Homo sapiens: one gene and its partner. The protein of the gene in region 1 interacts with the protein of each later gene in a pairwise test. Each region holds a gene or a part of one and is shown in the gene's direction. Other genes may lie near its edges. The genes, in order: CD82 and BDKRB2.

What was found.
Region 2: the proteins of CD82 (region 1) and BDKRB2 interact in a two-hybrid assay, tested with the Homo sapiens proteins (one large-scale study listed by BioGRID and IntAct).

What each region holds. Positions count from the first base shown.
Region 1 is NC_000011.10:44,613,937-44,617,748, forward strand, and holds part of CD82 (CD82 antigen), read left to right. Parts: intron 1-1,335; coding exon 1,336-1,437; intron 1,438-3,812. UniProt on the Homo sapiens protein: Structural component of specialized membrane microdomains known as tetraspanin-enriched microdomains (TERMs), which act as platforms for receptor clustering and signaling.
Region 2 is NC_000014.9:96,235,543-96,239,354, forward strand, and holds part of BDKRB2 (B2 bradykinin receptor), read left to right. Parts: intron 1-1,526; 5' UTR 1,527-1,565; coding exon 1,566-1,639; intron 1,640-3,812. UniProt on the Homo sapiens protein: Receptor for bradykinin. It is associated with G proteins that activate a phosphatidylinositol-calcium second messenger system.

The sequences.
Region 1 (3,812 bases):
CTGGCTTGGGGCTTGGGAAGGGGTGAGGGAGGATCTTTTCTGTTTTGTTTTTTGTTGTTGTTGTTTTTGTTGTTGTTTTTGTTTTTTGTTTTTTGAGATGGACTCTTACTCTGTCGCCCAGGCTGGAGTGCAGTGGTGCGATCTCGACTCACTGTAACCTCCATCTCCTGGGTTCAAGCAATTCTCCTGCCTCAGCCTCCTGAGTAGCTGGGATTACGGGCACCCACCACCATGACTACATAGAGGGAGGATCTTTTGACCATATAGTTGATACCGAAGTTCCAGGTCCCTCAGTCTTGGGGCCCCCTCCAGGCATCTACCCTGCTGTCTTGGGGGCCCTGTTTGGAGAGGCTGCACTCTGGTCCTTGGAAGAAGGAAACTGAGCTGGGCTTTCCTCCCTGTCCCTCCTTCTCCCTGAAGCTGCCCTGTGGGAGGTGTAAGGATTCACCAAGAAGTTGCATGGGTCTGGCTCTGGTGCCTGGCAGACCATGGTGGTTAGGTGTGCATTCAGCATTCACGTACCCCACACAACTATTCTGTGCCAGGCTTGGCGCTAGCCACGGGGGACCCTGTAGTGAGCGTGCCAGATGTGGTCCCTGCCCCCACGGAGCTGATGTGCTAGTGGAGAGAGATGATAAGCCCTGAAAACCAACAAGCATGTAACGTCAGTGCTCTAAAGAGAAATACAGCATGCTTTCCCTTGTGGGATAAGGGAGGCCGGGGAGGGGTGGTTGATTGGTTGGGGGAGAGGGGATGGGGAAGGGCTGATATTTTGTAGAGTGGTCTGGTAAGGCCTTTCTGAGGAGGTGACATTGGAGCAGAGCCCTGAAGGAAGCAGAGGGTGAGCCATGTTAATGTCTAGGGGAAGAGCATTCCAGGCGGTGGGAACAGCAGGTGCAAAGGCCCCAAGGCAGGAGTGTGCCTGGCACAAAGACAGCACAGAAATCTAGTCAGTTGAAGCAGAGGGAGGAAGAACAGAGGACAGAAGGCCTGGGGAGGCAGACAAGTGGTGTAGGACCTCCTAGGCTGTTATGGGGACAATGACGGTGGGAACTGCCCTGGAGGTGGGAGGCCCCTACGGGGTTTTCAGCAGTGACATGAGAATATTGATGTTTACAGGGCCAGGCTGCTGCCAAGCGCAGAAGAGATAGTGGGGCAGGAGTGGTTGGCACTGCCTGCATCGGGCACCCTGGGAGCGCCAGGAAAGTGGCTGGAGCCATGAGCGTGTCCCAGGGTTGCTGAGGGGAACGGGGGGAGGCAGTTTAAGTAGGGGTGACCACAGGTGGGCACGGGTTTCAGGAAATCTGACCCTGACCTTTGTCCTCCCCCCTGCAGCTGAAGCAGGAGATGGGCGGCATCGTGACTGAGCTCATTCGAGACTACAACAGCAGTCGCGAGGACAGCCTGCAGGATGCCTGGGACTACGTGCAGGCTCAGGTGAGGTGGGGCGGGGCTGCAGGAGGCTCTCTGGCCTGGGTGTCCCTGCATTTGGGGCTCTGTGCACCCACATGTCTGGGACTGGCATCTGCAGTGCTCGTGTGTGCCTGACAGTTTGTAGGAGAGTGTGCTTCTATGGGGGCAGGGCACCCCAGTTAGCACCACAACTCCCTGCTCAGGGGGCCCAGAGACTCAGAGGCAGCTTCACAGCTCTGTGCTCCCATTTGTGGCCAGAGAGCATGGGGGCAGTTGTCAGCCCTCTTATCTCAAGCTACACTGGGGAGCGTTGGGAGCTCCACTCTGGGTTTTAGGAAACTGGGAGCCAAGGCTGATATGCTGAGAAGTCCCAGTGAAGGCTGCCTCTGGGGAAGGGCACTAGCTGGGGAGGTGTTGGGGAGCCTTCTAGGGCAAAAGGAGTATTTTAGCCAAATCTTGATACTGGTTTCGCCAGTATGTGCACATACGTAAAAATGCACCAAGCTGAATGTGTGCCCATTAGTTCATGTGTATTATACCTCCATTAAAGTGAGAGAGATGGATGGATGGATGGGTGGACAGATGGACGGACGGACTGACCGACTGACCAACAGATAGACTGACCAGGTTCCCAGCCTGTCTCAATAGTGATCCAATGACCACCTGGCTCTCCTTTCTTGTGGTCCCGGATGCTGCATGTGCCCTTGGCTGGGACCTGACATCTCTGATCTGCAATCCTGTGAGGGCGCAGGACACAGTGGTCACTTAGGGCCTGTTGACACCTCAGGGGAGGGATGTGGAGTACAAAGGGCATGGGCAGCAGGAGAAAGCCTGACTCAGCGGCACCAGGAGAGTTTGCAGAGAGGACACTCCATCTAGGTGACATGGACATGGCCATTTTCTCAGTGGAGGAAGGGGAGAGCGATGTTTTCTGGCCCTGACCGAGGAGATCAGGTGTGGGGGTTGTGGCAGCTGGAAGGCTTGGTGCACACAAGGAAATGTTTTGGTCGCATATGTAGTTTGACCCACAATTGCTGAGACTTTGCTAATTTTAGCAAAGTCTGGATGTCACCAGTGACATAAACCAGTGCCACCTGACAAGGGACCTGGGAGGAGAAGTGGGTCCCTTGGGAGGTGGTAAGCATCCTACCCTGGAAAGTCATTGGCTGGTTCTAGATGATTCTGATGCTGTCAGATGCTGCTTAGGCCGGTGGTAAGTCAGACTCCCAAGGCCTGGAGTGCTAACACTGCCACAGCCGCTAGACCTTTGCTGAGCCTGCTTCCTCATCTATACAATGGGGCTACTGACCCATGCCGTGTGAGATACATTGTTAAAGCCTGAAGCACTTAGGCAGCATTTATTATGTGGTATGTTGGTGGTGATGTTTTAGTCACCATGCACATCCATGGAGACACAGGCGGAGGTGGCGTGTGCTGCTGGGGACCAGGTACAGCCGGAGTCAGGCCAAGGGGTTGCTTGGAAGGAGGCTCTGTCGTAGACGGGCCAAGGAGACCTGCCTCATTTTGCTCTGGTGTAGGATGGCCTGTGGGTGCCCCCAGCCTTGCAGACCTGTGCACCCCTCAGAGGTGCCAGCCTTTTCTTGGAGAGAGGAGGCAGCCCGGCTGCTGGAACAAGCACCTGTAAACCTGGATTAGAAACTGCCTGGAGCTGAGCATTTCTGAGTGTGCCTGGCACGCCCCCTGCTGGCCACTGGCTACTGGTCAGGCGACACCCCTCGGAGCTAGGAAGGAAGCGGTCCAGGAACTGACCCCTGCTGTGACCGTGGCTATCCCATTGAATCCTCCCAGGAACCCCCAGCATTGCGGGGATTCACACACAGAGACCTCCTTTAGCACACAGAGCCCGGAAAGGCTTTCTTCTCTCTAGAACTAGAGCATTTTCTCCTTTAAAATGGCAGAATTGACCAGCTAGCCAAGGTGGCTCACACCTGTAATCCCAGCACTTTGGGAGGCCGAGGCGGGCGGATCACTTGAGGTCAGGAGGTCAAGACCAGCCTGGCCAACATGGTGAAACCCCGTCTCTACTAAAAATACAAACATTAGCCGGGCGTGATGGCGAGTGCCTGTAATCCCAGCTACTCAGGAGGCTGAAGCAGGAGAATCGTTTGAACCCTGGAGGTGGAGGTTGCAGTGAGCCAAGATCACGCTGCTGCACTCCAGCCTGGGTGACTGAGCAAGACTCTGTCTCAGAAAAAAAAAAAAAAAAAAAAAAGGCGGAATTGACCCCGTCTCCTTTTTCACTTTTCACTTTTTTTCCTTTTCACCAGGAAGCTCAGAGGCAAATCTCAACTCCTGCACTAAAGTTGAACGGCCTTTCCTAAGCTTATTGTGCTCCCCACACCTATGCTTGGTACTTTGCCTGCCTCATCCCATTTAGT
Region 2 (3,812 bases), on another chromosome or scaffold:
CCCTGATCCCAGCTGTGCTTAGGGGTTCCTGCAAACCTTTTCCAGGTGTTAATTACCTCCCACTTCATTTCCTGTTTACCAACTCAGCTTTTTGTTTTAGTGTGTTTGAATTCCCTGAACTGACCGTTGTCTGATCTCCACCTCCCAACTGAATTAGGGGAGCTGGGCTTCTGGAAACCCAGGTGCCGGGTGTTGCAGAGTGGCTGAAAGCTGGGATGTGGCAGATCCGTGGCTACATTCATGCACACACACACACCCACATACCCACACATGCACACACACACACACACCTGCACTCACACACTTGCACATGCATAGACCACAGCTTTCCACACCCTTCCTAGACAGGGGTCACTTGGTGTCCTGGAGAGAGTGTGAAGTCTGGAAGGGAAAGAGGGGGGATTAAGCCCCACCTCTAGCCATGGGACTGAGACAAGTCACCCCCACCCATCTGCGCCTTGTTTCCTCCTCTGTGAGGCAAGCACAGAGCCCATGCCTCCCTCCCTGGATGGGAGTGATGTGAAACTTGAAGAGGGGTAGAGACAAGGGTCGTCAATGGAAGCCCCTTGGGCAAAAAGGCCCTTTCAACTAGGGGCACAGAGGAGGCCCTGGGCTGAGAACTTGACAGCACCTTGTATTGGTAACCAGCCGGAGGGACTGGAAATACTCAGATGTGTCTGTCTCCCTTATTAGGTTCAAAGTCCCTCGAGACCCTGTCTCCATCACAGTGCTCCAGTCCAGACCCCTCCTCTGAGCTCCAGACCCTGCTGGACCCAACAGCCATCCCCATCCCCACCTGCCTGGAATTCTCCAAAGAACCTCCCCTTTAACAGTTCCAGCCTTTAACAGTTCCAGTCTAAACACATGACCTTTCTCCTCTAAATCAGCCCCCCATCTCTGCCTTTGCAGGAGATGGAAGCCATGACACCTGCCTCGCCCCTGTCCTCACCCCATCCATGTCCAATCAAGCACTAGGCATGTCAGGTTTACCCTCTAAACTCCTCTGGAATCCAGTCTCTCAGTCTCCATCATCCCAGGTCGAAGCTAATGGGCTAACTGGTCCTTGCTTCCACTCTACCCCCACTGCAGTCCTGACTTCCTGAGCAGCAGCCAGGGCCTAATCCATATTCACACCAAGCGCCTTCCTGACTGAGATATCCTCCTGCACCATCATCCCTCCACCCTGTTTAGTTCTGCTCACCCTCAGTGTTCTCATCAATAATCCACTCGCCCTCACAGGCGCGTTTGGGACCCCATGTTCTATGCTCTCACAGGACCTTTTGCTTGATTTTTCACTGTACTCAGGTCAGTTTGCAGTTATTAAGTGACTGAGCAATGTCTGGCTTCTCCAGTAGACTGTCAGCTCCTAGCCATTGTATCCCTAGCACCGCTGTGTGGGAGCACTTCACAAACGTCCATTGAGTCAGGGACTCAGCAGTCTCCATTTCTCCTCCCTGCTGGAGAATGCGTGTATTTTGCAATCCCCAGCCCCTGTGCCATCTAACCATCTTTTCTTCTCTGTTCAGCCCAGGTGTGGCCTCACTCACATCCCACTCTGAGTCCAAATGTTCTCTCCCTGGAAGATATCAATGTTTCTGTCTGTTCGTGAGGACTCCGTGCCCACCACGGCCTCTTTCAGGTGAGTCAAAGGGATTCCTCAGTTCACTAGTTAGGGGAGGTGGGCAGACACCCTGGAGAACTCCCTGGAAAGCTCAACTCTCATGCCCCGGACAACAGTTGAAGGAACCAGTGATGTTAAGCCCAAAGACAAAACCTCTCAGGTGTCCAAGTCCCTGTAGGCCTGTTGGGAGCAGAGGGAATGTTCTGCGGAACTAGAGGAAGAGGGGCTCAGGGAGAAGAAGGGCACATTCCTGGTTGTCATATGTGATCTATCCCAGATGAACTTGGAAGTGAAGGGAAGAGAGTTAAACATTAAAGTAAATACCCAGTGGATCAGACAGCAATGTGCCAGATTGCCTTGGAGACAAAATATCTCCAACACATGGCTGACATTTGGTGGGAGATCAGAACACCCTAAAGAGAGAATTTAAGGGGAGGGGGAGGAGGACCTGAGCCAGAGTAGAAGCAGAGGATAGGGAGATCTGTTCTTGGGGACAGCATTTGCAAGAAACAAGGCTGAGGGGTCCACTCCAACCTCTCCACCCTGCTGCAGGTGCTGCCTATGATGAAGATGAGCAGATGGCCATCTCAGCTGGGGCCACAGTGCACTGGACCTATAGTTTCCAATTCCGCACTCAGCAGGCATCTTTCTGATGATCCGATGGCTTCTCAGAGCCAGGGATGGGCCAGGATCCATCCCCTTGGCTACTGTCTTGCTGAGAAATTAATAAGCAGCATCTGGTGCTATACTTTGGTCTCTAGTGAGTTAGCTCATGAAAGATGACAGACTCTCCAAGCCAGGGGTATGCAGGAAATGGGTTTTCTGTAGCTACAGAAATGGGGTTGAGGGTTGGACCAAGGGGACTACCCAGGGGAAGTCTTACCTTCAGAGGACTCTGGAAAGGAGGCTGCAAGTTTTCATGGGTCAAGAATTCAGAGCCCAGTAGAGACAGCTTATCTCTGTTCCAAGATGTCTGGGGCCTTGGTTGGAAGATTCAAAGGCTAGGAAACCAGGAGCCACCAAAAGCGTAACTGGGGCCAGAGGATCCACTTTCAAGGTGGCAAGTTGGTTCCCCCCATGTGGCTGCTTGAGTATCCTCACATGGCGGCTCACATCCTTCCAAGTAAGCAATGCAAAAGGCCAAGAAAGATGCTGCAAAGCATGTTATGACCTAGCCTCAGAAATCACACACCATCCCTGCCACCATTAGTAAGAAGTCCAGCCCACGTCCAGGAGAAGAGGAAGCAGATTCCTCCTTTTGAAATGAAGAATATCAAGTAATTCGGGGGGCATATGAAAGCCACCACACACCACAGGGATCTTTTTAGAGCATACTTCTTATACCATCACTGTAGTTCCTTAAGACTCAGGGGCAAAGCCTCACTTCCTTAGCACCCAGTGAAGACCACGCTTACTCCCTCACTCAACCTCTTGCTACTTCCCACCTCTCCTGTCCAACATCTAGTGTCACTTTCCAGAACATACCAACAGCTTCCCCAGTTCTGTGCCTCTGCTCAGGCTGTTCCCCCTGCCTGGTCCACTTGTCCTCCTTCTTGTCCCGTCAAAATGCTTCTTATCCTTCAAGACCCAGCTCTAGAGTCACCTCCAACCCCTTACCCACCAGCCCCCTCTCCAAGTCTGTGTCCCACAACCCCCCTGCTCCCTCCAGGGCACCCTCCACCCTCTGGGCCACAGTTGTCAGGAGTCAGGCAGGGCAGGGGCCGGGTGGTGTCTTCTTTGTGTTCTTGCACTCAGGGCAGAGCTCAGCACAGAGCAGACGCTCAAAAAACATTTAAAGGATAGAAGCATTGATTTGTGGGTCCCCCAGTCTGGCTCCAGGATGCCAGCCAGCTGCTCCTAGAAGCAAACGGACTTTTCCTGGGAAATCCCAGAGGTGATGATCAGTATCTCTCCCGTGACTCGTAGTTCAGCTCTTCCTCCATGAGCCTGACTATCAGTGGACCTTCCAGAAAGAGCCCCTTTTCCTTCTCTCACCCACAGCACAGGGCACTGGGAAAATGCCCAATGAGTCCTGCCCTCTGGGTTGTGCTTTGGACTTTTCAGTGTGTCTTCGCATCCACTCTTCAGCTTGAATGTTGCAACAGCCATGAAAAAAGAAATGCAAAGCGATTCAGGATGAGAGCAATACCCTACTCCAAAGAAGGCAAAATAGAAGCTCAGAGAGGTCAAG